Regions from separate parts of the Homo sapiens genome. Here all the other regions are linked to region 1. The links come from fine-mapping of genetic effects on gene expression. A gene starts in region 1. Each other region holds a variant in brackets. All regions are shown on one strand. Distances are between the middles of the regions.

What was found. PIP is the estimated chance that this variant, and not a neighbour inherited with it, causes the effect.
Region 2: its variant is fine-mapped to the expression of AK5 in whole blood (TOPMed, PIP above 0.99).
Region 3: its variant is fine-mapped to the expression of AK5 in whole blood (INTERVAL, PIP 0.90).
Region 4: its variant is fine-mapped to the expression of AK5 in whole blood (INTERVAL, PIP above 0.99).

The regions. Positions count from the first base shown.
Region 1 is chr1:77,278,564-77,286,708 of GRCh38, reverse strand. AK5 (adenylate kinase 5) reads right to left here and starts at 4,690. Exons shown (of 14, transcript NM_174858.3): 1 at 4,336-4,690. The coding sequence starts at 4,395. RefSeq lists a silencer at 4,771-4,830.
Region 2 is chr1:77,166,916-77,174,915 of GRCh38, reverse strand. It overlaps PIGK (phosphatidylinositol glycan anchor biosynthesis class K), which reads left to right. Exons shown (of 11, transcript NM_005482.3): 4 at 5,521-5,656. Among named protein-coding and RNA genes, the nearest start is that of PIGK, 49 kb to the left of the region's middle. The variant C/T (reference allele first, on the strand shown) is at 3,569.
Region 3 is chr1:77,427,493-77,435,637 of GRCh38, reverse strand. All of the region lies in intron 8 of AK5 (adenylate kinase 5), which reads right to left. LOC124904202 (a long non-coding RNA gene) reads left to right here. Exons shown (of 2, transcript XR_007066178.1): 2 at 2,451-2,905. Among named protein-coding and RNA genes, the nearest start is that of AK5, 150 kb to the right of the region's middle. The variant C/A (reference allele first, on the strand shown) is at 3,463.
Region 4 is chr1:77,497,183-77,505,327 of GRCh38, reverse strand. The region is part of intron 10 of AK5 (adenylate kinase 5); the gene reads right to left. Among named protein-coding and RNA genes, the nearest start is that of ZZZ3, 180 kb to the left of the region's middle. RefSeq lists an enhancer at 7,644-8,145. The variant TG/G (reference allele first, on the strand shown) is at 4,892.

The DNA of each region.
Region 1 (8,145 bases):
TGCCCAGCTACTTTTTGTATTTTTAGTAGAGACAGGGTTTCACCATGTTGGCCAGGTTGGTTTCGAACTCCTTAACTCAAGCGATCCACCTACCTCCGCCTTCCAAAGTGTTGGGATTACAGGCATGAGCCACTGCACGTGACCCCACCCACCTTTGTTAAAATAGTATTATGGCTCATCTTTGAATTCTGATTGTTTTTGTCCTTTGCATTTGTCTTTTAATAAACAATTAGAGTTGAAATTACGATCTGATGGAGTCATTAAGATAATCCCTTAAATTCTTGCCTAATTAGTTTTCAGTTCAGCATTCTCTGCCTCTTAAGCAATTCAGGCAACTAGATAGTTTAAAATGGAAGAGCCATTCACTTCATCACAGTGAGATAAAATGCAGCATGTGAAAATGCCCCTGGTCATTATTTATCTCACTCCTACCCACCCTTTATGTCTCTAAACCTCAGTTTCTTCTTTTAGAAAATGGGGGTAATAATAAATACCTCATAGAGTTTTTTAAGAATTAAATAATTTCATATTTGTACAGTGCATATTAAATGCTTGGCACATAGTAAGTGCCCAATAAACTTTGTTGGTTTTAGTTATTATTACTATCAGGAAGTCTTCTCTGAATCCCTAGGTTTGTCTGTGAACCCCTTCTTCTGTGTTCCCATGGTATCCAGCATAAAACATCATACTTGTCATTTATACTGAAACCATTCGGTTATGCAATAGTCTTTCTTCTAAACTATAAGCTCTTCAACAACACAGAGTGAGTCTAATTCATTTTTCAATCCCCAGATACTGATGCTTTCCCTGGCATTTGGTAGGTGCATATTTAACTGTTTTCCAATTGGAAAAAAAAAATCCCTCAAAGCTCAAGTCTAACTGAGACTCAAAAAAATTTAGGTCTGAGACTAAAAAAAAAAATTACTATTTGACATAGAGTAAGTCACTACGATATCCACTGAGATTCCAGAGGGGAAAAGAAACAAAGCATGATCCTGCTATTACTTTTTTGGTTCATGGTGTCTGATGTGTCACTGGCACTAGATTCTAAAAATGCTACCAGTTTGGAAATGCTGATTCCTGGAAGCTGGACTGATGTGCAAAATATTTTCCTTTAGAGTATTTCATGGAAAATGCATAAAGGATTATTCTTACCAATATACATTGTTAGTATACAAAACACCCTTTGAAGGGCTGACATCTGTTTAAATACAGTATTTTATTTTCAATTATTTCCTGTGTAATTTCCTCAGAATGGTAGGCAATTCTCACTAGGTACATTTGTTTTCTGAAATCCTAAATAGAGTAAGCTAGAGTGTGCACCTCCATCAGCCAAGTTCAATTGCAGAGGGAGCAGAAAAAATTACCCGGGCATCCAATTCAGTTTGTTTGTCAAAATCTGTCCCATATACACACACATTGCAGTTGAGCTTCTCACATTCTTCCCATACGCCAAGCCAGTATTAGCCTCATTAATAAATAAAAGCCTCTGTGTCATATATTTATTTGCATACCCAGTGCATTCTCAGCCCTGTGTGACTTTATTATCCCCATTTTATAGATTAGGAAATCATGGCTCAGAGATATTAGTGATGGCTCTAGTTTACTCAACTAGAAACTCCTAGGCCCAGGATTTCAATTCAATGTTTCCAATTCCAAAACCCATATGTTCTTCTCTGTACCTGTTGCAGAAACGTGATATGAGATAAAAGAAAACATGAGATTCTCTGTGCCCTCTGCAAAATGCCCTCTTTTTATCCCTACTATTGCCTGAAATGGGTGAACACTCTCAATGACTCTTTTCTGAAAATATACATTTCCAGCGTCCTTAAACAATACTGGTTCACCAAAGGGCATTGATTTTAAAATGGGACAATGAGCTCCATTCCTTCACGGATAATTCAAATCTTTTCTTCTAATAGCCAGCCACTATCAGGGATTGAAGACAACCAGCACATATTATTGCTCAGTCTCTGAGTGAACCCTTTGAGACCTTGAATAATCTGACTTTCCACAGTATTCAAATTGATTGCCAAATCTCTGCTGTAAGCTACAAGATCAATATACACACCATAAGGTTAGCCAGAATTAAGAACTCATGACAAAATAATAAGAAAGTGGGTTTAAAAAAGTCTAAAACTGGAAACACATTTCAAACATGAACGTACCAGAGATATCCCATATTCCATTTAGCTTACATGATGTCTCAAATTAGGAAAAAATCTGAAAAGGTCAGTTAGATATATTTACTTGTCTGACAATACGTCAATACAATAATCAGTCAGTTTGTCTGTAATAGCGTCTAAAATCCACAGCTGGGGCCAATGTCTTGGTGTTTAGTAGACAGCTAATTGTTAAACTTTGTACACCTAAAATATTGTGGTGGGCAAAATCCATTTTAAAAACCTAAAGTTTTTAGTTTTACAGTCTACACTAATCACATGGAGAACTGCCAGATTTTCCTTCCCTCTTGAGCTGCGCATAGCACAGATTCGTCTTACTGAAGGATGTAGCCTTTGAGGTCACCAGCAGTCTACTTCCATCTTCTCATTGTCCACAAGTGAATCTAAGTCCATTACTGTATTTCACCCAAGCAAGTTGACTTCCTTTTCTGGGTGTGCATTATTTATCCCATTCATATGCAGAAAAGTAAATAAGAAACATAAAACCTTAACAAAAAGGCCTGCCATAACTTATTTGCATGCACAGTGTAGATTTTAATAAACTATCAAACTTCTCTGTGGTTACCTTCCACCAAGGAGGAAAAACAGTACCCACATTTACAAAGAAAAAAAGATGTACTATGTAGGAATTTTTGCAATCACGTGGTCCTCCTACAGATGTTTTTAATGATTCTTTTAGAAGCGTAGAAATGAAATATATCTCAGTAGTAATCTTTGTGAGAAAAACCTTCGCCTCTTAATTTCCATATTTACTTTTTGAAAATAAAAACAAACAAAAAAAACAACTCTTAAGATTCCCACATATTCTCAAGACCTGTCCTTATGCAACACCACCTAATTATTTTCACGCAGGAGTAACACATTTGCTAGATTTGGGCTTCACATACCACGCTTGAGTTCAGTGAGTGGTTTACCTGGAAATCTTGACTTCAGATGACCTGAAAACGGTGGCTTATAGAGGTGAGAGAAAAGAAGACCTGTAATTATGGCAACCCATTTTAAAGATAGTTTAGGGAAACTGAGGCAAAATTATTTTCTCAAGTGGTGCTTTAAAATTCCTTTTAACAGAACAAATCCCCCAAACCGGGGGGAAAAACCCTCATGACCTTTAGTTTACGATATCAGTCTATCCGTTTTCAGAAATGGGGAACGAGGTTTGCAGTGAATGGATTTCTCCTTTCAGAGCTCGCTTAGGAAGCCTGGCTTGCTTCTATTCTTTTCTCCTCCTCCCCCCTACTTCAAGCAAAAGCACTTGAGATTCAGGAATGTTTTTAAATTCAAATACAAAGAGAAGGAAAGGAAGCCAAACGACCTGAGACAGGGGTTGTGGCTTAGAACAGACCAAGGTTCATTCCTCGAGCCTCCTCTCTCTCAGTCTCCAAGTGTCCCCCCATTCCCGGGTCCCGGTGCAGATGATGCTGTGCTGCGGTCTGAAGACTGAGCAACAGGAGTCCGCCCCCCTCGCAGCTCCCTCCCCGACCCGCTATCTCCAGGTGGGTTGTCGAGCACTGGCGAAACCTGCGGCCCAACCCTTCCTAGGCAACGGGAAAAACGTGCTCAGGAGTTCATTCAGCGAAAGCGCAGAGCAAGGCTGGGGGCCTGTCACCGGGGAGGTGGCACTTGATAGGTTGGGTTTTGCTTTTTGCATCTTCATCCCTCTCTTCCAAGCTGTCTCCAGGAAGGGCTGCCTTCGTCCACATTTCCTCTTTCCCCCAGGGGTTCCGACCCTCGACCAGCAGAGTGACTAGGGCTCTGGCTCCCTCAGTTTCGAGTCTTTACTCGCTGCTGGGCGACAGTGCAGCCACCTGACCTGGCCCTCGCCCCCAGAGAGTGCGGCCCGGCCGCGGTCTGCAGCCCACCCTGGGTGTCCACATCCGAGGGGCGCGATGGGAGCAGGCTGCTTTCAGAACCCTGCTGGAAGACTGAAACTTGATCTGTGAGATGCAGGCTTCTAAGCCCAGCCTTCTGACAAGGACCCTGGCAACCCGCGGGAAAGGCGACTACCCTCGGGGGAGCGGGCGAGTGCGCTTCTACAAGCCCCTTCATTACATGCCCCGTGTGGGGAAGGTGGGACGGGGCGCGGCTGCCTCAACCCGAACCCCTGAGATGCAGTCCCCGGATGCTACCGCCCGTCGGCCAGCTCTAGCCCTACCTCAAAAAGCTGAGGGATTTCCCTCCGGGCCAGATACTCCTTGGCATCGTTGGTGTTCATGGCTGTGCCGCGCGTGCCTTGGGGCGCAAGCGGGGAGGCTCCCGGGCTGCGGCGACCTGAGCCGGGGCTGAAGCTGGGGCTGGCAGAGTCCGCGCCGAGCAGCGGTGCAGCCCTCTTTCTCACGCGCACTCAGCTCAGCCTCTCCGCCCAGGCCAGGGACCCCCTCCGCCTCTCCCCGGGGGCTGTGGTCTCCGCGCTCCCGCCGCCCCCGCTTCGGTTCCAGCCCCCGAGCCGGAGCTGCAGGCGCCGAGCAGCTGTGCCGCGGCTTCCCGGGCTGCCAGGCAGCGCGGCCGCCAGGGGTGGGGCGCAGGGAGCGGAGGAGGGAGGACAGCGTGGCGAACGCAAGGCAGCAGCCGGCCCGCCTCTCCGGTTCAGCGCGCCGCGCTCCGCGCCTCCCCGAGCCGGGTCTGCGGCGGCTGCCGGTCACGCTGCGCGGGCTGGCGCGAGGTGCGGAGGTGGGGGCGGGCACGCGCAAGGGGTCGTAGTCATACCCCTCGGTGCGGCACCGGCGCCAGAGCGCGACGCTTCACTGCGTGCGCCGCCCAGGGATGCAGCTACCGGGGACCAGGTGGCCAAGGGAACAGGGTCGGGGTCTGTAGGAACCTGCGACCGTTTCGCTTCTCCGGACCTTGTACGCACACAGACACACTCGCACGCACATACACGGTTACCTCCGGGTCTCCGAGGAACTCCCAGGAAAAACCTAATAGTCACAGGATTTATCATTTATTCCTAAGGTTACGGATCTTTCACTATAGGGAGCTGTGGGGAAGGGGGAAAAGGGGATTCATGGTGTGGAATCCAACCCTTCAGATAATTTTTAGATCTTGAGTATCTCTATCCTTCAGGAAAGTTTTGCTAGCTGGTTTCGAATTTTTACCCTGTCGGTGTCACAAATCTTTATAGACTTTAGGATAAGGCCTTAGTGTGAGCCTGAAATCCTAATCAACTGAAGGACTAATAAGTAGTCAACTAGTTAATTATCTCCATGGAGAAGAAGGGACAGTGGAGGAGAAAGGTGGGTGGTAGTGGAGAGCTAGAGATGCTTAAATTGCAAATGTGTTTAGTAGGTGGGGAGGGTGGGCATCATTAATTAGACCTGAAGAGTGTGCAGTCCGTGGACAGTGTCGTATCAGAGCACCCCTGGGGGAATATGAGTGAGTATGAGTGGGTGCGCTAAGGCATAATGGTTAATGGATCTTCCTGCTGCAGACCATTGTTAAGGTGTAACCCATCTTCCTCCTAGCTCCCAAGATGACTCAATTCCCTGCTAAGATGTCTTCACATTGCCTATTTGGGAGATAGTCCTTGCCCCCGGAGAATATGATCTCTAACTTCCCACAAAGCCTAACACTGTAGGAGGGTGTGTGAGAGAGGACACTTTGGTAGGCACTGGTATCTGGGGTCTGGCTGGAGAAAGAAGCAACGCTGCCACTGCTTTAAAAAACTATAGAGTCTGAATGTCCATTTCAAGTGCTTCTTTGCAGATCTTTTCTTGGTTCTATTTCTTGTTCCGGAAACAACTGCAGCTCAAGCCTTAACTACAGCTGCAGCTTTGTTTTACCTGAGGGAGTAAATGAACTTTTAGCACTTGTGAACCCGTGTGTCATATGGTTGCCTTAAACGAGGCAGGTATTTCAGTTCCATGGAAATTGGTTTTTGCCCTTAGAATATGCCATTTCACTTACAGTCCCAACTTCTAGTATTTCTTTAGCTTATTTAAGATTGGCTATGGCAGTAGTGAAGGCAGTGTCTCTTCCCTATGCAATGATGCTTGAAAAGTACAATGGTCCGTGGCATTAAGGCTTCCTTTGTGAGCAGGCACAGTGGAGGTGAACACGCAGGAATGAAAAGGCCAGTTTCTCCAGGACTTTTCAAGGTCATCCTTTGCAGACAAGAATCTGGCAGAGCATGGCTCACCTGTCTTCCCTTGAAGAAATGCATAATTCTAAGTGTACTTTAGTGTTACCGGACAAGTGTTGGCAACTTGCTTGTAAAAAGAGAATGGATAAGAAAGACTGCACTGCACTAAAAATTGTAGATAGCCTGAAAAATGTAGTAAATGGTGATACGGCAAGTTTTCAAGTAGCCTTATGCAGAGACAATTAGTGTATTTTGGTGTGTGCCAGGGTGGAGAGAGATGCGTGAAAGAGGAAGATGTTCATAATTACTTTTGCAAAGGAAGTTGTGGCTTTGTAGGGAGGGGCTACATGAGAGAGATATAATGCTTAAAAGCCAAGCTAATGGTTCAAAAGAGAGGAAAGAGAAAGGACAAGGAACACTAAATACATCCTTGCTGTGGGAAAGCTGGCCTCTCATTCCCTGTGATGAAATTCTATGTGTGGGTATATAGAAGGCTCATGGCCCTTGGCCCTTTGTTTATTTGGGAATGCTTTCCTGCAAGCTATAATGAATCAAAATGGTTACTGCATGTCGGATGTCTTCGGATAGACTCTCTTGTCATCACGTCTTGAGAGAGGGTGCTAGGTTCTGAGATATAGCAGTGAATAACAGACATGATCCTTGCTGTCAAGGAACTTAAATTCTATGAAGAGTGTGTGTAAGAAGTGCAGATGAACAATAAGCAAATAAAAATGCATAGACAACATCACATAGTGATTAAAAAATACAAAGAAGGACATAAACAAGAACATATCAGTTAGTGATAACTGATGACGAAAATCAGAGTTGTTGATTTGAAACAAGGGGGCAGAGGCTCCAGGTCTGTTCTGTGGAAGCAGCTGAGGAAATGGGAGTAAGAATAACCATTAGGGGCCGGGCACGGTGGCTCACGCCTGTAATCTCAGCACTTTGGGAGGCCGAGGAGGGAGGATCACGAGGTCAGGAGATCAAGACCATTCTGGCTAACACGGTGAAAACCCGTCTCTACTAAAAATACAAAAAATTAGCCGGGAGTGGTAGCGAGCACCTGTAGTCCCAGCTACTCGGGAGGCTGAGGCAGGAGAATGGCGTGAACCCGGGAGGCGGAGCTTGCAGTGAGCCGAGATGGCGCCACTGCACTCCAGCCTGTGCGACAGAGCAAGACTCCGCTCCAAAAAAAAAAAAAAAAAAAAAAAAAGAAAAGAAAAAGGAATAACCATTGGGATGATGACTAGGACTTCCAAAGGGCTAGGCATCCTTCAGACTCTTGGTGGGAATGTTTCCCTGAGTCATGATAGGTACAGATGAATGGAGGAATAAAATATCTATAGCTGTATCTATAGAATGCTTAGGACTCAGCCAAAGAAATTTAGAAAGGTACCCTAGCAGGAAAAAGTAAACTTTCTATTTTAAAAAACAAATATGTTGAAGTCTTTAAAAATTACACCATGATGGCTTGAAAGAGTAAATGCCATATATAGAGATTCCTGATTTACCATGTAGGAGTATGTTTAGGTGCTGAGAAAATCTAGCTCAAGCAATGTCTTCGTAATGTCTAGAAATATAATGGTGTATAAATACATGATTTACGAGTCACAATGAAAATAGTGTTTTATGATAATTCATTCAGTCAACAGATATTTCTTGTGCATCTCCTGTGTGCCAGGCATCGCTGGCACTGCTGTGCTGTCAGGCGCGTAGGTGAATAAAACACATGCATGGAGCATTTATCTAGGAGCAGGAGATAATTTGCAACAGATATAATAAACAAGTATATGAAATTGTTGTTAGATGGTGATAAATACCATGGGAAAAGGAAAAGTAGAGGAGGGTAAGGAGAACTAGAAGGCTGGCTTCAGTTTTATACAG
Region 2 (8,000 bases), 110 kb after region 1:
CCAGTAGTTGTAAGATTTTTTATTTGCCAGTTTTTAAGGTTTTTAATCGGATTACTGGCTTTAGAGTGGAGTCCTTGGAGGAACAGGGCCAGGAACATGCAGTTTCTACAGATTAATATAATAAGCAGGCACAGCTGGAAGGAAAAATAGATCTCAGAAATTAAGGGTCTCATTCTCATTTTTATATCAGATCCTGGATCCCATAAAGGGGGAATCAGCCAAGCTCCCATGGGTGTCTTATCTCTTAGTGGTGGGTGGGGACATTTCCATAACTTCTAGGTGGCCAAGAGCATGCTTTCTCTGATCCAAATGTGCAGAGCTGAGTATCTCCCCATAACTGCCATTAGCTATCCCTAAAAGTATATTTCCTACCTGATTATTACACACCAAAGCTGTCTTGTGATGCAAAGTCATTTCCGATACTCCCCAAAGTCGGAAACATCAGATAAAGCAATACAAAACAGAACAGAGTCTTAGATTTTGAGAGGGATCTATCCACTTTTAATTCCTGAGGTTTCTTGAGGAAAACAGAGGTTTTTCCCAAAACACGGTGTGTGGTGCCTCCTCTGCTTTTCCCAAGGAGTCCCAGGCTGTTAGAGCTTGAATATCCACTTTTAATTAAGCTGACTTTTAACTCTAGCCCTCTATAAAAGTCCTTTTAAATTTCTTACTACCCCACTTTAGCCAGGCAAAACAGCCAATATTTCTCGCTTAGAGAAAGAAAATTGTAATACAGTTTATGGAGGGGAAGAGAATCAACAGATGGTAAGTTTCATACAGATATCAAACCAGAAAGGACTCGTTCCCTAAGCCAGGAATTGAACTCAGGCCACCATTGTAAAAAGGCAAGGCCTTAGCTACTGAGCTATATTGGATAGCTTCCATTGCTCTTCCTAGAAGTCTAGAGCAGTCAATTTTGAGTTTGCAAAGGCTTTTAACTGCTCAAGATAATTTTCGGAGCTAGCTATGACATGAACCCCAAAATTCCTTTTCCCTGGAAGGTGGAGACTAAGAGAAAGTACCACCACATGATTACACAGTTAAGCTCCCAAGGACAAAACAAGATGGAGACCTCAGGCAGTTTTTTTGTTTGTTTCAGGGAACTGCAGCAACGTTTGTTATTGACCAGCTTGCTGGGCCGTCTTTAATAGTGAGCTTATGGGGTCCTAAGCCTATGTTATATTCCTAAAGTACTCTTTATAACAGAACCATACAGAAAGACAAGGACACCAAATTTGCTACAGCTTAAGAATAGCCTCAGAATCCTTTTTTTGCATTAATTAAAACTTTACAGAGGAACTAAACAGTGATTTTTACCATTCATTTAACCAGTTTGCACAGAGAGAGGCCAGAAGTCTGGTAAGAAATTCTTGCCCTTTTGCTGGCTTGTCAGGTTTCTGGGTTCCCCTTCCCTGAGTAGCCTCAGTGACCCTGCTTACCACACCATAGTTCTGGGGGCCAAACTGCATCACAAAGGAAAATAATGGAACCACAGGCAAAATTATCTCAATTTTGCAAGTTGCTGCCCAACCAGTTGTATGGGGGACCCGAATTCTAATATTTTCCATTCTGGCCAGAGTAAAATATGTGTGCTTTAAATAAAAATATTGAAATCTTTTTAGAAGTTTCTGCATATCAGTAGGCATCCGTAGATGAGACTAATTTGGGAGCCTCATTGTTTTAAATGCATTTCACTGCGTTGTTCATTTGGAATGTTCTATTGTAAGTTATCTTTAGTAAGATCTCACCATTTCTGTAAGACTTCACTGCTTCTGGGGCCTAACACTTATTTATGCATGTATAAGCCAGAAGGAACTCAGTTCTTCAGAAATTAAGAATCTCATTTTTACCAAAAATATTGGCTTTGCTCTTGGGTTCCCTTGATTAACTTAGCCAATGATTTCTTTTCCTACCTAAGTGCACGAGAAAAATGAAACAAAGGGGTAGAACACAAAAATCCCTGCAAATTTATTATTATTATTATTTTTTTCTGAGGCGGAGTCTCGCTCTGTCGCCCAGGCTGGAGTGCAGTGGCGTGATCTCGGCTCATTGCAATCTCCACCTCCCAGGTTCATGCCATTCTCTTTCCTCAGCCTCCCGAGTAGCTGGGAGTACAGGCACCTGCCATCACGCCCGGCTAATTTTTTTGTATTTTTTGTAGAGACGGGGTTTCACCGTGTTAGCCAGGATGGTCTCAATCTCCTGACCTCGTGATCCACCCTCCTCCACCTCCCAACATGCTGGCATTACAGGTGTGAGCCACACCACCCCTGGCCCCTGCGAATTTTTAAAAGCCAAATTTTATAGCCCCTGCAATATTACCACTTACTACCAGTTTCTTTCTGACCCATTCAGATGTAAGAAGCCTCTAACTGGATTCAAGTCAGTTAATTACTGGATCAAATTTGATCCTGCACCCAGGTCAGTTGCTGTCAATTCACTAATTGGCAAGCCCCCAGAATCACAGCAGATTCAGAGAGACTCCAATGCAGCCACATGGCGGAAGAAGATTAGAGACAAAAAAAGCGAAGTGAGGTACAGAAATTGGAAGTGAGATACAGAAACAACTGGATTGGTTACAGGTTGGCATTTTACTTATTTGAACACAGTTTGAGCACTTGGCAGTATATGGGTGGTTGAAGTATGGCTGCTGGGATTGGCCAAGACTCAGTCATTGTTACAGGTGCATACTCCTAAATTGGGTTTTCAATCTTGTCTACCTATTAAGTTAGGTTGTGGTTTGTCCACCAGGACTCAAATATGGAAGTATGGAGTCCTTATCAGGCCGTTTTAGTTTGCTTAAACAATTAAGGATGTCAAAATACAAAAAAAAAAAAAAAAAAAATTAAATGTAGAACCAGACTTGAAGCTCTTCTGTTAAACACAGCAGCAGGCATTTAGTTTTTGGAAAATAATGTCATCTTCAATGGGATTAATGTTTTTAGGGTATTATTAGTTTGCTAGTTTTGTTAGAATTTAATTTATAATTTTCTCTTGATTTCATAGTTTTGTAAGAACTATAAGCCTACGTAGTTTGTTTGCATTTATATGCTTAAGTACTGTTATATAAATAATTTAACACTTGGATCAAATGAGAATTATTTTTTTCTCTAGAAAAGAGTTCTGTACATTTCTTAAGTTTTAGAAACAGTGAATTAGAATATGTGGTTGGACTTCAAAACGTTTGAAATCCATTCTGTTTCCCAACTTCTCTTTTTCCGTATTATTCCAAGTACAGTGTTTTATAATATATTGATTATGTTAACAGGTCATAGTACTTATATTGAGGCTTAAAATTATCTCTAAGAGAAATGTTGATTACATTTATGATTTTAAGTTGAAGTTAGTACTTCTTTCTGATTGATATTGACATTATATAGCTATTGAATAATTATTTAGTTTCACAGAGTGAAATTAACCCTAAACAGAAAACATAGCCTAAAGAAATATTCTTTTTTTTTTTTTTTTTTTTTTTTTTTGAGGTGGAGTCTTGCTCTGTTGCCCAGGCTGGAGTGCAGTGACGCGATGTCGGCTCACTGCGAGCTCCGCCTCCTGGGTTCATGCCATT[C/T]TCCTGCCTCAGCCTCTGGAGTAGCTGGGACTACAGGCGCCTGCCACCATGCCCGGCTAATTTTTTTGTATTTTTAGTAGAGACAGGGTTTCACTGTGTTAACCAGGATGGTCTCGATCTCCTGACCTCGTGATCCGCCCGCCTCAGCCTCCCAAAGTGCTGGGATTACAGGCGTGAGCCACTGTGCCTGGCCAGAAATATTCATTTTTATATTGCCATTTGGAGGTCAATTCAGTCTTGTTTAACAAAGGAATATATGATTGATATTTATTTAATGTAAATTAATGATCTCAAGTTTTAAAAAAGAGAAGATGTATTTTCTGTTTTAAGAGGAATGACTCACTATTCTGTGAAAATGAATCAGTAACAGCTGAAGATCTGATCTTTGAACGTGACAGGGTTGGAACACTTTCAAAGTAGAAATCTAGCCAATTTTCAAGAAAAATAATGTTTCAGTTTTGAACTTTAATGTATTTGGAACATATGTAGCAGAACATTTTCTTCTTGCTGTCTCCTGCCAAACTAATTACGTATGCCACATTAATTTTTCCCTTATGCTTGGGAAACTCAAGATATGGTAGAATGGAGAATTTCCTGATTGTTACTCACCAGTTTTAATGGTAGAGTGAAGATGAGAAGTATCAAAGAGAGATTTTATTTCCTTCTAAAGAAATTATATGCAAAAATTAAAACATTTCATTCACTTAAAATTATTTACTGAGTACATACTGTATGTCAGGCCCTAGTATGTAGTATGAGTGATACAGTGGTGAACAGGACAGATATAGCCCCTGCCCTCAGAGAGCTTATATCCTAATGGGGGTGGTGGTGATAGGAGATGATGGGGATTTCAGATTCATAGATGTCCTGAAGAAAATAAAACACACAATAAGATAGAGTACCATAGCTAAGGCTGGAATTATATGAAGATCTGGGAGGAGTGAAGTCTAAATTTGGTCAGTAGCCACTTAAGTGGGAAAGGCTTGGCATATTCTAAGAACAGAAAGGCCAGTGTGGAGGTAGCATAGAGAATGTGGGTGGTAGAGGCTGAAGTTGGAGAGACAGAGACCAGATTATATGAGCCTTTTAGATGATGTAAGGAGTTGCAGTTTCTCTCTAAATGCAATGGGGATGCATGGAACTGCAGGTGAACAAAAATAAAAATAAAAAAAGATATAATGGGGAGTCCTTGGAAACTTTTAAGTGGGAACATTTAATAATTTGACTTATTTAAGGAAGATCACTCTGGGGGCTATTAGGAGAATGAACTGAAAGAGGGTGAGAGTAGAAGCAGGATGCCAGGTAGGGAGCTATTCCAGCATCTAGCCAGAAGATGGTGGTTGCTGGTGTTAGGGAAATGGAGTGGATTTGTGGATCTTGTGAGGAGTGATTGGCTTGGAGGTGTGCTCTTGTGCTAAACTGATTGTACTTGCTGATCAGTTGCATGTTTTTATACTCAAGCATTTGGGATTCTGAAAGTTAAATTCTTTGGGACATCATAGTTTAACGTGGACTCTGTAAGTCTTGAGAATGTAAAATTTTACTAAAAAATATTTTTGATGCTTAAGGAAGACAGTTTCTTTAGCTTCCCTTTGCTATGTGGCATAAAGTATACATTGTTCAGAAAAACATTGTAACTTGAAATTCTGTTCATAAGTTTATGCCAGATTGCGCCAATTTCTCTACTTTAAAATGTATCGCACACAAGGATATGAAAAAAATAATTAAAGTGCCTTCATAACTTTATGCCAGATTGCACTAATTTCTCTACTTTAAAATATATAGTACACAAGGATATGAAAAAAATAATTAAATTGCCTTCAACTATGTAGTTGAAAATTTTTTTTTAAGGAGGAGAAAAATGAACACAGTAGCTACATGATATAAATAAATTTGTGTTTAACTTTTTCCTTTTATCTAAATTATATATTTACTGGATTTTTTTTCCCTAGTCACATTGTCCTAATGCTTGCAGATGATATGGCCTGTAATCCTAGAAATCCCAAACCAGCTACAGTGTTTAGTCACAAGAATATGGAACTAAATGTGTATGGAGATGATGTGGAAGTGGATTATAGAAGTTACGAGGTAAATTCTTTAATCTAGCCACATTTTTAAAATGGCATTGTTACTTTTAGGCTCTAAAACAATGGCAGAATAAAATTGTCTTATTATTTTTCTTTAAATTTAATTGTCACTGAAGCCTTGATGTAACTTCTCTGAAGTTCATATTAAGGCAATGATATATAAGTAAAATATTAAAACATGAACATTTTATGTTTTTATCTAGGACAGAAAAACTTTATATTGGCTTCAATGTTAGAGTATTATAGTGAGTTTTCCTGTGTCAACTTTCTTTTACAGTAAATATATTTTATAGTAAATGTGTATTTTTCATATTTGACCTAAAATTCCAAGTTTATTAGTTTTAGTAATTGTATTAATTGTGGAAAAACTATAGTGACTATAGTTTCAATATACTTCCAGTGTTTTTTATGAATATGTGATAAGAAATAAAAATGTAAATGTAAAAAATGGTATTATACTCTATTTTCTCCCTTTGAAACTTCATTTTAAATATAAAAGATTGTGAATACGCTTAATATTTGAAGTCTTCTTTTATGAAGTCTTCTTAGATAATCCTTCCCCTTTTACCAAGCCTACCAAAAGTAAGACACAATTTCCTGTGTGTTCCTAGACCACTTTTGAAGCAATTTTAAAAGCATATCTATCTCCTCCTAGACTGTAAGCTAAGAGGGCCTGTGTCTCATGTATCATATAGCTGGCAAGTACCTAGAGCCTGGTGTTAGGCACTCAAAAATGTTGGCTCATTGAATTAAATATGTATGTTTAACCTTTTACTTGTTTATTTAGTCATATTTTAGGAAAATATAGGCCAAACATTTTCCTTCCTTGTTGGCCAACAAGAATTCCTGTTAAAACAATTAGCATTTTGCTGTCTTGCAGGAAAAATGTAAATCAAACAGTTTACACACGCACAAATGTGTATACATACAATTTATACACTCATGTTCTAGGAAATAGTTGAACAAGAAAACTGGATAGATTTTCTACTTTTTAAATGTAGATATGCATAATATATGACTCAGCTGTTGGCTTTAAATCAGTGTTTTACTCTCTATAACTTTAAATATGCCTTCAAAGAATCCCAGAGGGATAGAAATTCTAGATTGGGAAAATCTCGTTTAAAGTGTTATGAATTTTTTACATGTTAAAGATACCACTAACAAAATCTGAGCAACAAAGTGCATTCAAAAATTAAAGATACGTAATTTTGGGGAAATATATATGGAACTTTTTTTTTTTCTTTTTCAACCTTTATTTTAAATTCAGGGGATATATGTGCAGGTTTGTTACAAAGGTATATTGTGTGATGCTGAGGTTTGGGGTATGATTGAGCCTGTCACCCAGGTAGTGAACATGGAACTATTTTATTTCATGGTTAATCTATAATTGACTAAGTAGTTGTACAGATTAGCTGCAATAATGTAGTTGAATTTATTTAAAAATTCTTATATTTTGTATCTTCCCACAGAATTGCCTATGCAGAGGGATTAATAATTTTTATTTTTTATTTTGCTAGAGCTGGAGTCTTGCTCTGTCACCCAGGTAGGAGTATAGTGGCCATGTCATAGCTCACTGCAGCCTTGAACTCCTGGGCTCAAGTGATCCTCCTGCCTCAGCCTCCTGAGTAGCAGGGACTACAGGTGTGCACCACCTTGCCTGGCTAATTTATTTTATTTTTCCAGAGATGGGGGTCTTACTAGGTTGTCCAGGCTGTTTTTGAACACTTGGCCTCAGGTGATCCTCCTGCCTCAGCCTCCTGAGAAGTTGGAATTACAGGTGTGAGCCATCATGCCCAGCCAGATAAATAATTTTGCAGCTTTTTAGTAGTTTTTAAAGGCAGCACTTCACATAGCATTTAAAGTTTTAAATTCAGAACTTATTTTTCTCCAAGGTAGTTTTACTTTGCTTGTTTTTGTTTTTTGTTTTTTTCTAAGAGACATAGTCTTGCTCTCTTGCCCAGGCTGGAGTGCAGTGGTGAACTCCTGGGCTCAAATGAGCCTTCTGCCTCAGCCTTCTGAGTAGCTAGAACTACAGGAGCATGTTACCATACCTGGCTATTTTAAACATTTTTTGTGTGTGTGCATAGAAATGGGGTCTCACTATGTTGCTTAGGCTGATCTTGAACTCCTGCCCACAAGCAGTCCTCTTGCCTTGCCTCACAAAGTGCTGAGTTGATAGGCATGAGCCACCATGGCCTGCCTTCTTTGTTAGTTTTTAGTACTTTTAAAAATAGTAACAAAGTTACTTGGAGGTATATGTTTAAATGAATATATTTTAATTGAGTTATATAATTTTTGGGTGTTTTATTTTCAGTTGGTGCTGAGTAATATATGGAGAAAGAACA
Region 3 (8,145 bases), 150 kb before region 1:
AGTCTTGCTCTGTCACCAGGCTGGAGTGCTGGCGCCATCTTGGCTCACTGCAACTTCTGCCTTCCGGGTTCAAACGATTCTCCTGCCTCAGCCTCCTGAGTAGCTGGGACTGCAGGTGTACGCCACCATGCCAAGCTAATTTTTATATTTTTAATGGAGATGGGGTTTCACCATGTAGGCCACGATGGTCTCGGTCTCTTCACCCTGTGATCCCCTGGCTTCAGCCTCCCAAAGTGCTGGGATTACAGGCGTGAGCCACCATGCCCAGCCTCTGTTTTACAGTCTATTTACTTTCCCTAGTTTCAAATTAAAAGTGCTATGTTCTTCATTTAGGATGGTAATTTCATTTCTTGAGGTAAAGTTTTCCTCTTGAAGCTTTTCAGATTCATATCTCAGAAGTACAATTTTTGCTGTATCTTGCAGCACAGGATTTGAGGTCATACAACACTGCCTTCTGCTCTTCCTGTCCCTCCTTGAGAGGATACATCTTTTTGCTTGGCTAGGTTGATAACTCGCTCCTTCAACTTTTTCGTCAGCTCCTGAAACTTTTTTCTCTACTTCAAGCTCTGCTGTTATGACCTGATGCTCAAATGTTTGTCTTGAAGCCCTAGAAAAGCAATGTTCCCCTCCAGTATATCTTGATTCTGCAATCTTGGTTTTTCTTGATATGTTTGAATTGTTCCATCTAACCAGGCAATTTCATGTTTTCACTTTTTTAAAGAGCCATGTATTCCTCTGCTCAAGGTACTAGTTTTCTTGTTTACTTCTTCTATGATATGATGTAAACTCATACCACTGGACCCACTCTTCTTGTGTCTGATTAAATTCAAGTAGTTTTTCATCAGGTTAGACTTCCAGGTTATTTAAACGGGCTTCCAGTAAGAAGCAATTATATTGCAGGAAGCTTTTTCTTTCTTTCCCCCTTTTGGTAATTGGCCTAAGATGAAGATTTTTGTAAGTTCCTGTGCTTCACATTGTCTTTATTATGTTTTTTGATTATTTAGGAAAACTGAGCTTTGGAAAGGTTAAGGATTTTTGTTGGTTTGTTTTATATCCATGGAACTTTCTGTATTGTTTTTGAAGTCTTTCTGTAATCTAATTTTGATCAAGTGTTTTCAGCCTCTTGACAGTTTTTGAAAGTTTTCCCTAGGGTCAAGTTCTAAGTTTAATCTTTCTGACCTAAAACTAATTTTGTGATTTTTCCAGTTGGGCCCTGGAGAGCCTCAAAGACTGTATCTCTCAACTTATAGAGATATTAAATGATTAGGTTTACTTAGTAAATTGTATGGGAAGCATTGTCAAACGATAAGTGATGCTAGATCTTTTTTCAGTTACATTTATGAGTATGTTATTGATATGAATGTTCCAAGATCATATAAAACTCTTAGAAATCTAATATATCAGTCAGAATTCTTATTATGTTGTATGCCGCAAAGTAACCAAATTTCCTTGTCAATTTCTGGTTATCATGAACTTTCATCAAATTTTATTTATTTATTTATTTATTTATTTATTTATTTATTTATTTATGCTTTGCACTCTATTTTTCTGATTTCATCAGATTTTAAGCCACGGTTGTTTTCTATCTTTTTGTCATCCACGGTTACTGGTTTGAGTTCTTTTCTAAAGACATACTCAATCAGATTCATGGAAAAGACTCTAAGAAGTAGTCTTAAATATAAGTTTCTAATAACTTTAAGATCAAAGTTATTAGATAATAAAATAAATAAAAATTATGTACTAAATAAAAATTTTCAGAACTCTAATGAAGAAACTAATAAATTTATGAAACTAATAATCAAGCTCAAGCAGGAAAAGAATTAATTACATGAAATTAAATGAACTGATAAAAAATTTTATAGCCTATTTATTTGAAACATTGCTGGTTCTTTTCCTCAATGTTTTGTTTTCCAGATTGAAGAAAACTTTTTGTCTTAAGCCATCTATAGTTTACAGCTGCTTGGTAAAGTAAACATTTGTGAACAAAAATGAAAGCATTTACTTTTTCTTCCTACCTGATCCCTCCAAAATGGGAAAACTATTCATGACAATATGATTGTTTACTTAAGTTTGATAAGAATCTGTTCTCTTTATTATGGGATACAAGTGGAAACATTGGTTTTATCACAAAAGTTTTGACTAAATTGTCATATTTAAATTGTTTATAGGTACTACAGATAAAGTCTGAAGTCAGCTTTGGTTTGGCTTCCTACCCTCAAGAAGTTTTTAAGTTTGAGATTACCGTATGGTCAAATCACTATTCTTGCTGGCAAAATTTGATAAAACTAAACATATTTTACAAACAAATTAGTCTTACTGTGATTATCTTTGGTAAAAATAAGGATGACTATAGAGAGAATGTTATGTTTCTAAAGAAAAAAACTATAATACACCTATTATTAGGCTGTGCCCCTGTGCATTGTTTTCAAGTTCTTCTCTTCTACCTGTAGATCTGATCAGAACCTGAATTCTCCTAATTTTCTTCAATATTTGGCTGCAACTCTCCAACTAAGAGCAAAAACTGCTCTGTGCTTGCCGCCTTAGAAGATGAAGCTAGACAACTTGATATAAATTTCAAGAGACAAGTCTCATACCCGAAAAAAGAAGGACAAGTCTTGTGCCACACAGAAAGTTCACCAATCCACCTGATACCATAGCAGAGAATTCAAACTGCAAGCCAAGAGAAGTTGATGGCTTCATGCTATAGGCAGCGTTTCCCAAGACACTCCATCAAAATGAGACTCTTGCCCCTCTTAATTTTTCCTTTCTTATGCTTACCTTTTTCTTTGGCAAGATAATGATGTAATTCAGATTTCACAATCAGCAGCTTCTGCTCATAACTTAAAAGAACATGACCTCTTAGGTATCTATTGTTTAAATAAAAAAAAGTCTACGCTTCCACTAATACTACATGTTATACTTGGGTAAATTCCTCTGGGGAAGTTGAGGCCCATATCCACAGAATTTTTTAAATGGGTCACACAGTAACAACAGATGTCATCTAATTCTCAATGGTCATTTGCTTTATTCAATTGTTTGTCTTTAAGACTGGATTCATGGCTCAAAACCATTATACAAACTTGGATTTACCATATTACTATTAATTTTATTTTATATTTTTGTTTTTAAAACTTGTACCTGTTGCTTGTTAAATTTCTGCAGAAGTACAACTCCTAACAGAATAATGCTGGCCCAGTGCTTTGAGATTGTGGCCAAAATACTATGGAATAGACAAAACTGAACATAGCAATAAATTCCAGGTAGACTTAGCCTGAGAGCCATTTCCTCCAAGCCTCCCTTGTTGCTCAAATGTGGCTAGAACGCTTTTGACACAGATTCCTACTCACCAATCACGTCTTCTGATATGGGACCAGACCAACAATCTGGGACACATCCTGGCACCAAGGGACAATGAAAATCTAACTACAGGATGATTGAATGGTGATACTTTCAGAAAAAGAT[C/A]TTGATCAAAAGGGGGGAAATGTGAAAGTTATCAGAATCAAAATAGAGTCACTTGTGTCAACAAGAAAAAAACAAAACCAAAAACAGCTGAAAAACAGTGCTTGGGAAGGCCATAAAGGGAGGATTCTCACGCACAAGTTCTTGATAACAAAACTACCACAAAAAATTCTGCAAAAACTACAACTTCACACAAAGGCCATCACAACCTTACACAGAAAACACTTCTTTGAGGACATCTGCCCAGCAATTGCCTTTCCAAACTTGGACTGACACCACCTTTGTTACTTATCCTTGTAGCCAAGGATAATTATCTCAAAACTATTATGTAATCCTCCTCATTTTTTTCTTACAAGACCTTTGTCTTCCTTTACCTCCCTGAATACACACATAGTTTACAATGGCACCCATATTCCTATTGCAATGCCCATTTCTGAATAAATATCATTTTCTGTTAGAGAATTTCCCTCTCTGTTATTTAGAATGACACAATTTGCTAGGATCAAATATTCTTTTAAACCAAGAGATAGCACTCTTGATTTAAAAGAGTGACATAGGGTTATATTTTTAAAGAAGTCAAATATGCTTCTAGTGCTTTTGGGCGTTGGCTCCTAATTGTTCTCTACCCACTTCCTTCCTAAACTGCTTAGAATCCTCAGCTCATTACCACTTATACTCTGCCAATGCTTTGCTCTCTGCCTTTCTGAACCACATATTTGCTAAAATTCCATCACTGTGTGAACCAAATTACTGACCTTCTCTGTGTCCTGCTAGAATTCCACAACACTCAGTATAGCGCCTATAAGAGTGTCTGGCACCTAAGGCCACCCAATAAACATTTGCTAAAGGAATGAAAAAAATGAAAATGATTGATTCGTCAAAATAAATTTCTAGTCACTAATGTCAAATGGGCTCTCAATTCACTAATATCAAATGAAATGCTTGGTAATCCTGTTGTGTTTCCTTAGCACATTGCCTGCTAGATTTCACAACAGTTCAGGCTTCTACTCTCTTGAAACCCTGAAATCTCAACAGATGGCTTTGCCTCTGGAAGTCATCTTACAGGAACTCTTTGACTTCCCACCATTAAATATACAAACCCATCCTCCTATCCTATCAATGTTCCTTCTGTCTTAACCCACACGAGACTCTTTTGGTCTCATGCCAGTCTCTCCACCAGGGCTGGAGAACCCAGTCCTACCACATTCAGATAGACTTTCCTCTCTCTTATACTTGTATATTCTCCTTTTCACAAACAAGTAGACCTTTCCTGTGAGTTAAAACATGCTTAAGTGTCTTCACTTTATAGCGCTTTGTAAAGTTCTCAATTTCCTCCGTGTTTCTATATTCAATGATTATTTTCCAGTCTCTCTCTTCCTTATCTTCTCAGCCACATTTGGCACTCCCTGCCTCCTGAAATACTGTTTTCTCTGGCTTTTGGAACACCACATTCTACTGATTTTCCTCATATCTCTCTAATGGCTTCTTCTACGTCTTTCTGCTCTTTCATCTTTCTCTACTAAGACTTTAAATTTCCTCGGTGTTCAGCTATAGAGCCTCTTCTCTCAATTTTGTTTTCTTTCTCTATCTCATCTCCACTCACAAATTCAAGTCCTATCTATATTAAAAAGGCTCACAAATTTGTATTTCCAGCTCAGATATTTCCTCTGAACACCAGACCTATATATTTAATTGCTCACTGAAATTTTCTACTTGGATATGTTAAGGCACTTTGAACTCAGCATGTCTAAAATTACACTCATGCCCTATCTTTACAGAACTCGTCTTTTCTCAGTGAATGCCACCACTGTCTACCCAGCTGTACCAGTTGAAAACCCAGAAGTCATCTTCAACAGCTCACCCCCTGTTGGCTCCCATATCCATTCCAACATGAAGTCCTGTTGACTTTCGTCACAAGTTCTTCTCAAATACACCTCTTTCTCTCTGTCCCCTTTTTTACTCCAGTGTCACCATCAACTCTTGTTTGGACCACTGCAGCCTCCCACTCTGGACTCCATAGATGCCTTGTTTTTTTGTTTTTTTTTTTTGAACTCCATAGATTGCTTTTCTCCAATGTGTTTTCCACATTGCAGCCAGAAAAATGTTTTAAAAAATAAACACAAATATAATTATGTCAACACACTCTCCTCCCTCCTCAGAAACCCCAACTCTTCAAGGTTCCCCATTGCTCTTAGGATAAAGTCAAAACCCCTAACCTGCTCTACAAAGCCCTACTTTCCAGGCTCATCTGCACTCCAGCTATCCTGGTCTTCTTTTGGATGCCATGCTTCTTCCTGCTTCATCCTGCTATTTCCTCTTTTTGAACATCCCTTTCTCTTCTCCCCAGTTCTTTCCTGTTCTCATACATACTTGGTTACCTATGACCAATCTTACAGATCTCAATTCAAGAATCTCTTGCCCGCCAGGTGCAGTGGCTCACGCCTGTAATCCCAGCACTTTTGGAGGCCGAGGCGGGCGGATCACGAGGTCAGGAGATCTAGACCATCCTGGAGAAGACTTTCCTCACCTCACCAACCACATCTACACACAGCACCATGCACTTATTCTCCCAAGTACTTCACAGTTTTAACTTTATTTCTCTGACTATTCTATTCTTGTCTAGTTCTACTATAAGCTCTATGATAGCAGGAACTGTGCCATCTTTTGCCCACCAATGTATCCCCAGCACCTCATATAGAGTCTGGCACATTGAATTTACAAGAAAAAAACAACCCCATCAAAAAGTGGGCAAAGGATATGAACAGACACTTCTCAAAAGAAGACATTTATGCAGCCAAAAGACACATGAAAAAGTGCTCATCATCACTGGCCATTGGAGAAATGAAAATCAAAACCACAATGAGATACCATCTCACACCAGTTAGAATGGCGATCATTAAAAAGTCAGGAAACAACAGGTGCTGGAGAGGATGTGGAGAAATAGGAACACTTTTACACTGTTGGTGGGATTGTAAACTAGTTCAACCATTGTGGAAGTCAGTGTGGCGATTCCTCAGGGATCTAGAACTAGAAATACCATTTGACCCAGCCATCCCATTACTGGGTATATACCCAAAGGATTATAAATCATGCAGCTATAAAGACACACACACACACATATGTTTATTGTGGCACTATTCACAATAGCAAAGACTTGGAACCAACCCAAATGTCCAACAATGATAGACTGGATTAAGAAAAGGCACATATACACCGTGGAATACTATGCAGCCATAAAAATGATGAGTTCATGTCCTTTGTAGGGACATGGATGAAGCTGGAAACCATCATTCTCAGCAAACTATCGCAAGGACAAAAAACCAAACACCGCATGTTCTCACTCATAGGTGGGAATTGAACAATGAGAACACATGGACACAGGAAGGGGAACATCACACACTGGGGCCTGTTGTGGGGTGAGGGGAGGGGGTAGGGGTAGCATTTGGAGATATACCTAATGTTAAATGACAAGTTACTGGGCGCAGTACACCAACATGGCACATGTATACATACGTAACTAACCTGCACGTTGTGCACATGTACCCTAAAACTTAAAGTATAATTAAAAAAATTAAAAAAAAAAGAACTTGGATAGAGCATAAACCTGAAGACAAGCTGCACACCTCCTCCTTTGAAGCTGGTTGAATGGACAAAGGTACAAATAAGCCTAATAATGGAGTGGAAGGCCTGGGCTATCACCTTCATCAGTGTTTTTGGTTTTGGTTTTTCATCCTATGGGAAAAAGTCAGTACTTTTATTGATGGGGCATTTGTTCCTCTGGATAGCTGAAGCTGCAGAAGTGTGGCTTCAGGTTTTGAGAACCTAAGTGATAGTTTTCTCTGTGTTGAGCAGGTATTTTCAATGAACAAAAAAGTACACAGAGAAGAGGAACAGCACACATTTTCCTTGGTGTGACCTTTGTCAATCTGGTGTCATTTTCAGATTTAGTGTGTGGGCTCAGCAACTCTACACACTCTGCTCAGACCATTAGCAGAAGTTTTACATTTTAATGGAGTCCAGATTATGCACTTTTTCTTTTGTGGATTATACCTTTGGTGCTATATCTAAAAAGCCACTGTCATTAATACGATTTGGAGGTTCTGTCCCATCTCATCTCATGTTGAAATGTGACCTCCCCTGTTGGAGATGTGGCCTATGAGAGGTGTTTGGGTCATGGAGGCAGATCCTTCATGAATAGCTTGGTTCTGTCCTTGTGGTAATAAGTGAGTTCCCATTTTATGTGTTCATCTGTGAACAAGGACACTTTTATTTATTCCTTCTTAATCTATATGCTTTTTATTTTCTTGTCTTATTGCATTAGCTTGGGCTTCTATGTATAATGCTGAAAAGCAATGGTGAAAGGAGACATCCTTGCCTTATTTCTTTTCTTAGCAGAAAAGCAGGAAAGCTTCAAGTTTCTCATCATTAAGTATGATGTTAGCTGTAGGCTTTTTACATATGTTGTTGATGATTTTCACATCTGCACTTATAAAGATACTGGTCTGCAGTTTTCTTTTTTTGTAATGTCTTTGTCTAGTGTTGGTATATAGAGAATGGTTCATAGAATGAGTTAGAAAATATTCCCTCTGCTTCTATCTTCTGATAGAGAATTGGTATGATTTCTTCCTTAAATGTTTGGTAAAATTCACCAGTGAACCTAGAGCTTTCTGTTTTGGGAGATTATTA
Region 4 (8,145 bases), 220 kb before region 1:
GCTTGTTGATGGAAAATAAGTATCTTACTGTTCCAAGGTCATTTCCAGCACTATCACCCTAACTTTTGTCTTTGTCAGAGAACTTCGAGATTATCTGTGCTTGCAGTCTATTTGTGCACAGTAAAGGGAAGTGAGACATTCAGGGCAAATGTTAGCTGGATTACATCTGAGGTTTTATGTTCAATTCTAGACCACATCACGGAAACTGGAAGTCTTACACATTGTGATGGGAACATAAAACGGGCACAACTGTTTTGAAGGGCAATTTGGCAATATAAGTAAACAAATCTTAAAAGTTTAATTCATATCTGTGAATTTTACCGTAAGAGAAAAAAATCACTGTTTTAGGACACAGATATTCATTACAGAATTTTTAATAAAAGCAAAAGTTGAAAAAATAATGTATTATGACAACACAATCATAGGTATAAACTGAATAAATTCTATTACAGCAAAATAAAGGAATAGGATGCAGTCATTAAAATGATGTGCTGAAAGAAGACAGCTAGAAAATAATATATACAGTTATATAGTGTGATTCCATCTATGGAAGTTAAAAAATGCCTATGGTAGTCCTTGCAGGGAGTAGTGATGAGGAGGAGACACAAGGGAGATTTCTGAGGTTCTGGTCACGTTCAATTTTCTGATCTTCATCTTGGTAAGACACATGCGTCCAATTAGTGAAATTTCATCAAACAGAATACTTAAGACTTGTGCACTTTTCTGTTTTTGTATTTCGGTTGAATTACAAAAGAACTTTAAAAAATGACATGGCATATTCAGGAATACTATCTTGGAAAGATGCCCATGAGGTTTTGTTAAGTATAAAAAGTAGGTTTTTAAATTATATGATCTCATTCTGATGAAAAATGTATATTAAAAAAAATATATATATACACAGAAAAAAACTAAGAGGAATATAAATCAAAATACTAATAGTATTCATTCCCAGGTATTGGGCTGTTTGTGATTTTGTTATTGTTGATACACGTTTTCTAGAATGAAGATGTATTATTTTTTGTAAAAAGAAAAGAAATCCTTAAATTTAAAAATGTTCTCGCCAATCTGTTTTAGGAGAGATTTGGGCTGCATGTGTCTAAAGAGACATGACTTAGGGGGAAATAATAAAAGTAGAATTTATTCATTCATTCCACAAGAAAATGTGAGGAATCCACATGCGCTAGGCAGTGTAAGGACTGGGGACACAGAGACAAGAAGATAGCACTCTGCTCTTGAGGAACCTGCAATTTACAACAGAAAAAGCTGCATGTTTTTAATTGGATGAAGACATAAATCACAAGAAAAGTGTATATGTCTTCAAATATTTGAATCGGCAGGGTGGAGAGAAAGCTAATTTTCTCTGTATGGCAGGACTAGACTAAACAGTGAAAAATTTTTTTCAACCCCATTTTTTTTTCTTTTTTTTTTGAGACAGTCTCTTGTCACCCAGGCTGGAGTACAGTGGCACAATCTCGGCTCACTGCAACCTCCACCTCCTGGGTTCAAGCAATTCTCCTGCCTCAGCCTTCTGAGTAGCTGGGATTGCAGGCGCCCGCCACCACACCTGGCTCATTTTTTTGGTATATTTAGTAGAGACAGGGTTTCACCATGTTGGCTAGGCTGGTCTCGAACTCCTGACCTCAGGTGATCCGTCTGCCTCGGCCTCCCAAAGTGCTGGGATTATAGGTTTGAGCCACTGTGCCCGGCCTCCACCCCAATTTTTAATAAAACCTTATAGACAAATCTATCCAGTCTTAATCAGTTTAACCATAAGGTGAGCTTCTCATAAACCTTTTATAACCCTTTACAAATTCTTGTTAAAGAGCAGATCCATGCTCTAAGAAAACCATGTTGTGCTTTATTCCAAAAGCATGGAAAAAACTGAATAATACCCCTTTAAATTTAGCCAATATGTTCATACACAGAATCTCTTTTACAATTAATTTTTCACAAACCTTCCAAAACTTGCTCAAACATTTAGGTTTATCATATCTAATTTAAAACAATCCTTTAGCCCTCTAAACTAGGCAAAAATGTACATTCCCGTATCTTCTTATAATCTTTTACTAAAAGCACATTTCACTTCCTCACAGGCCTGGCATGTGAAACTGATGGTTTTTAGTAGTCTTAATTACATGTTACAATGTTAACTCTCAGCAATTTTTATCTTTGGTGAAAAACCTGATAGGTGATTTTAATTATGTACTAGATATAGAGCCTAGGACACCAGACAGAAATGCCTAAATATTGGAATTTCTGACAGAGCAGGTTTTGACGCAGTCTTAGGAAGACTTTCCTATGGACAACAGATGCCCAATAGAAACACACCATCTCCTCTGCTGGGGAGACCAAGTGGATGCAGCCAGCGTCTTCTACTAGGGCTCAAGGCTAGGACAGTGCCACCTGAGTTCACCTATACCACAGCAGGGTGTGAGAGGGGGTGGCATTCCTGGGGCTTTGGTGAGTAGTCCAAGAGGGATTGTTGGGCAGCTCCAAAAGAAGGACTTCAAAAGCAGGGGTGCAGCTTCTGCCTACTTGCTATGTTCTCACTTTGAGAGTAAACTGTAGGCCTCTGGGAGGTGCAGCTAAACTCTGCTGCTGCCATGGACATAGTTGGTAACAGCCACTCCACAGATGAGCATCTTCTTCCTATTGTTTTGGTGAGCATGGTCCTACCAGGGAAGATTAAAAATCAAAACTTTTTTTTTAAAAGCCAAATCCACTTTTCCTGGATTTTCCAGGAGGAGGCCTACATTAGACTCTGTCATAGAAACATGTTATCTACTTTCTCCTTCTTTGTAAAAAATTAAACCTCATGATTTTTATTGTGGGCACAAGGCTCTCTGAAATACGGACTACATTTATTAGCCTCCCTTGCAGGTGAAAGTGTCCTCCTGACCAATGAGATGTTAGTGGAACTGGTGAATGCAACTTCCAGGCAGGTCCTTAAAGGGAAGAAGCAAGTTCTTCTGCCCCATTTCCTCTTTCCTTTTTAATGGGCTTAGGACATAAGGGCTGGAGCTTCAGCAACCATTTGGGACATGAGATAACTCTGGAGAAGCCACTCAAAGGAGCAGAAAAATATAGGGAACCTGAGTCTCTGAGGCCATAGCATGTCATACCACTGCTATGACTGCTTGTACCTAAAATTTACATAAAATAAATTTCTACCTTGTTTAACTTCAGTTATTTTTTTAAAAACTTTCAGCCAAACAAAATCCTAACTGATTCAAAGTTCCAAGTGGGGCAATTGTTATTAGTCATCTATTATTAATAGGATAGTGAATATCCTGACACTCAAAATACTGAAGTCAAGACTAGATAGTTATCTGTCAGTGATGTTCAAGACTCACTTCTTGACTTGATTAGGGAATTAAGCTAGACTAACCTCTCTTTGAGCTCTGTGCTCCTCCTGCCAAACAGGAGTGAGTGAAATAGGCACAGTCTCTGATTTTACACTATCTAGTGATGTTGTGCAGTGCTGGGGCTGATATTTTAGTTCAGGATTCTTTCTTCTTTGGAGAAGACTAGAAGACAAGGGCTCTAATTTTGTTTGACCTGAGCCCTACTTTAAATGTAAACCTTTTTCTATATTTGCATCCTTCCACCCTTACATTCATGGACAGTATTAAAAGAAAAAAGTAAAAGGAGAAGGGCTGCATAACAACATTTCGCTCAATGATGAACTGCATAAAGGATGGTCCCATGATATTATAATACACTGTATTTTTACTGTGTCTTTTCTATGCTGAAATACACAAATACTTACCGTGGTGTTATTATGTATTTATACTATTTGTTATGGTAACATGCTGTATGGGTTTGCAGCCTGGGAGCAATAGGCTATACCATGTAGCCTAGGCGCATAGTAGGCTACACTGTCTAGGTTTGTGTGAGTACACACTAGGATGCTCTCATAACAAGGAAATTGCCTGATGAGGCATTCCTCAGAATGCACCCCTGTTGTTAAGTGATGCATGACTGTATATGGGAGAATTCGTGGAGGGCAGTTGTCCTCCTGGTGTTTCCTTGCCTGCCCTGCTCACCAGCTCTGGACTGGTCTTCAGTCAACATCACATTCATGCATCTAGGCCTTTCAAGGTTTGGCCCATCTCCTTCCCGTTCCTGGGCTACGAGGGGCATAGCCCTACTGCTGTGATTTGCTCCTAACTTGGAATCTCCCTGCTTGCAATCCCTCTCTCCTCAGCCCTCTCTCAAACTTAGGGAATCCCATCCATTCTTTGAGACTCCCCTCGATTCTCAGCTTTTCTAGGAAGAGACTCCAACCATTGTGGTTTCTTTGTCCTCTTACCCCTGGTAACCTTCACCGAATGGTTCTTTTTCAGTTAATTCTACACTGCGCTGTATGGGCTCTGAAGTTTTCATAAGCATGAATTCTGGCTTCACTGAACAGATTATAGGTTCTGGGATGGGTAGGAACATAAAAAAAAACAAAACAAAACAAAAAACGAACTTCACTGTACTTATCACAACGATGGATAATTCAGCCTTTGCTTGTTTTTTTGTTGCTGTTGTTGTTGTTTGTGAGATGGAGTCTCGCTCTGTTGCCCAGGCTGGAGTGCAGTGGTGCAATCTCGGCTCACTGCAACCTCTGCCTCCTAGGTTCAAGAGTTTCTCCTGCCTCAGCCTCCCGAGTAGCTGGGATTATAGGCACCCACCACACCTGGCTAATTTTTTAATATTTTTAGTAGAGACGGGGTTTCACCATGTTGCTCACTCAGGCTGATCTCGAACTCCTGACCTCAGGTGATCTGCCTGCCTCGGCCTCCTAAAGTGCTGGGATTACAGGAGTGAGCCACCGTGCCTTGCCTTCTTTTGTCTTTAATGGACACTTTATCAACACATCAACTCCAGTACACACTCCATTCTT[TG/G]AAGGATGGTGACATTTGGGACCTGTATCATCAATATAACTGTTATCTGTTTTGTATTTTGACTTTGCTTCCTCATGGTGCCAGCTACCTAATGGTGGACTAAAACCTGAGTCTAATACGGAAACCGTGTGCTACTTTACTAAGCCAAATTTACCAAAAGCTGTATCTCTTTTTTTGGTTTTATTTATTTTGTGGGAAGGGGCCATAAAGACTTTATAAAGACTCCGCATTGATCCTTCAGGACCAGAGGAAGAGTTTCTTAGTTATGGTTAGTTCTTAAAAATAGCCATGCCTCATTGTTTTACCTCAAGCCTCTGCTCTTATCATTATGGCTCTGAGATGGTTATTACTGGAAGACAGATTAGTACATTTGCTTCTGATAATGGGTCTGTATTAGTCACACCTGAGTTTGAGGAACTTGGGGGGAAGTAACTTAATCTGAGCTTTCATCATTTTCCATTCATTCATTCTAAAGACATATACTGAATGCCTACTAAATGCCAGGCATCCTGATAGGTGCTGCAGAAGCAAACCAAAAAAAAAAAAAAAAAAAAAAAAAAAAAAATGGAAAAAGGGCATGGTCTCTGTCATCTAGGAGATTTAGTAAAGGTCACCTTCCAATCAACTGGCTATCACTGGCCTTCTAGCAAATCGTCCTCTGAAGAGGTTCCCAAGGGGTCTCTCTAGGAGTCTGATGGCTGGCCTCGGCCAGGTTTCTCACTGCTGAACATTCTCTTCCTTTCTCAACAGCAGATGTTGGAATGAGAGGCAGTCTCAGTGCTTGCCTCAACAGCTCCACCCAGACCATGCTGAGGACTTCCAAAAAAACCAGGGTGTTCTGCTTGTGGCTCTTCCCCACCAGCTTTCCCTGCATTGACTACAATAGTCCAAACAGGGTCATACGCAACTGGCCCAAATAGGTTCAATGCACTTTACACCAAGGTCGCTGGGCCGGTGGTGATGGGTGGATGCGTGGCAGTAACGCGTGATCCACTTCCTAGTTGAAGGGATTCCCTGCAGCCTGGCAGAACCAGGAGGAACATCTTCAGAGTCAGTGCCCCAGACAAATATGAGAAAAAATATCACCTGAGTCGCAGTAACATGTCACAGTAAAGCAAAACAGCTACACTCTGTTACAAGAGGAAAGAGTCCTTTTTTGCCTTAACCACCTGAAGGTTGGTTTAAATATGTTTTCATTTGCAGCTAAGAAAACACTCAGACTCCTGGTTCAGAGGAGCCTGGAGCAAGTTGGAAAGGAAATACTTTGTGAGTGTTACATTTGGAGGGCCAAAATAGTCACTGACTCCTTAATCACTGGCTTGTTACTCTGCTTCATTCTTCAAGGCAAAAAATGATCTCCTATGGTAAAATGGTCTCCTACAGGGCTGGGTTGTTGACAACTGCAAGAATGTGTCAGCTAGAGGAAATGGCAGCATATAGGCAAGTTTAAGCCCAGGGCTTCAGAGACACATTCTCATTTCAACTGATTGATCTCAGCCAACTACAGCTGGTTGTAGGTGAAACACCACTTAACAGCTCAGTCCCTTAGGGAGTGTTTAATTTTAACAAGAAATGTTGAGGAAGAAACATTGAGGAAACAAACAGGAATTTAACCTCTAAACTTCTGTTATGGTTTCCTCATCTTGTTCCTTTCCTTGTTCCAATTCACTTCTGAACCCATCCTCATCCTCCTTTTCTCAAGACTCTCTCCCTCTCATTGGATGTCTCCCTTCACTCTGCATAGAGTACCTACAGTGACAGGTAATGTTTGTATTCACTAGGAGCCCTGCTGCATGTGCTAACTCATTTCACTCTCCCATCAACCCCATGACCTAGACACAATCAATACTTCCACATGACAGGTGAAGAAACTGAGGAACAGTGAGTGGAAGGATGATGCCCAAGGTCACACAGCTGTACATGTAGGAGCCGACATTCGAACTCATGTAGTGTTGCTTTTGACTAGAGCCTGTAATGCCTCCCTCTTTATAAAAATGACCTTGAGTCTCTCGTTTTAAAAATATTCCACCCTGAATATTCACTTTGCTTTAAACAGTCTCTTTCAGACTCTTTCAGAGTCAACTTTCTTGAAAGTGTTGTCTGTACAGATCCCCATTTACTTACTTCCTAGTCACCCGTAACCGTCTGGCTTTACCCCTTCCCATTCCTCTGGAACTGCTGTCACCAGTCACCAATAACTCACCTGTTGCCAAACCCCACAGACAATTTTCATTATACTTTAGTGAACCTTTCCCAGAAGAAAATTTTCCTCCCTTGCCTGCTGTGATGCCATTTGCTCTAGATATCCCCCTTTCCTCCCTGTGCTCTTCTCCTCTGGCTCTGGCAGGGCTCTTGGGAAGGTTTCAGGTCTTAGCTCTCTTCCAGCCTCACCCTCCCTAAGTTCACTGGGTGACTTCTTGCACACACATGGCTTCACATCTGTGTCTATAGCCAGAACTTGTATTTTTGGTGTCAGCTGTGAAAAATCTCTTGTTTAATGTACATCACTGCTTGGATATCTCATAAGCATCTCAATCTTAAGATGTTTAAAACTGGCCAGGTGCAGTGGCTCATGCCTGTAATCCCAGTGCTTTGGGAGGCCAAGGCAGGTGGATGGCTTGAGCCCAAGAGTTCAAAACCAGCCTGGGCAACATGGTGAAAATACAAAATACTCTACCAAATAAGCCGGGCGTGGTGGTGCGTGCCTGTAGTCTCAGCTACTCCGGGGGCCGAGGTGGGAGGATCACCTGAACTTGGGAAGTCGGGGTTGCAGTGAGCCATGATTGCACCACTGCACTTCAGCCTGGGTGAGAAAGGCTGACAACAACAAACAAAAAAGTTTAAAACTAAACTCATCTGTCTCTCAAACTCTATTTCTTCTGCAAATTCCTTCTCTTTGCATGGCACTTCTGTCTCTGGAATTGGTTCCTTCCAGTGGGTTCTTGGTCTCACTGACTTCAAGAATGAAGCCACGGACCCTCGTGGTGACTGTTACAGTTCATGAAGATGGTGTGTCCGGAGTTTGTTCCTTCACATGTTCGGATGTGTCCGGAGTTTCTTCCTTCCGGTGGGTTTGTGGTCTTGCTTGACTTCAGGAGTGAAGACGCAGACCTTTGCAGTGAGTGTTACAGCTCTTAAAGGTGGCACATCCAGAGTTGTTTGTTCCTCCCGGTGGGTTCATGGTCTCGGGGACTTCAGGAGTGAAGCCGCAGACCTTCGCAGTGAGCGTTACAGCTCTTAAGGGTGGCACGTC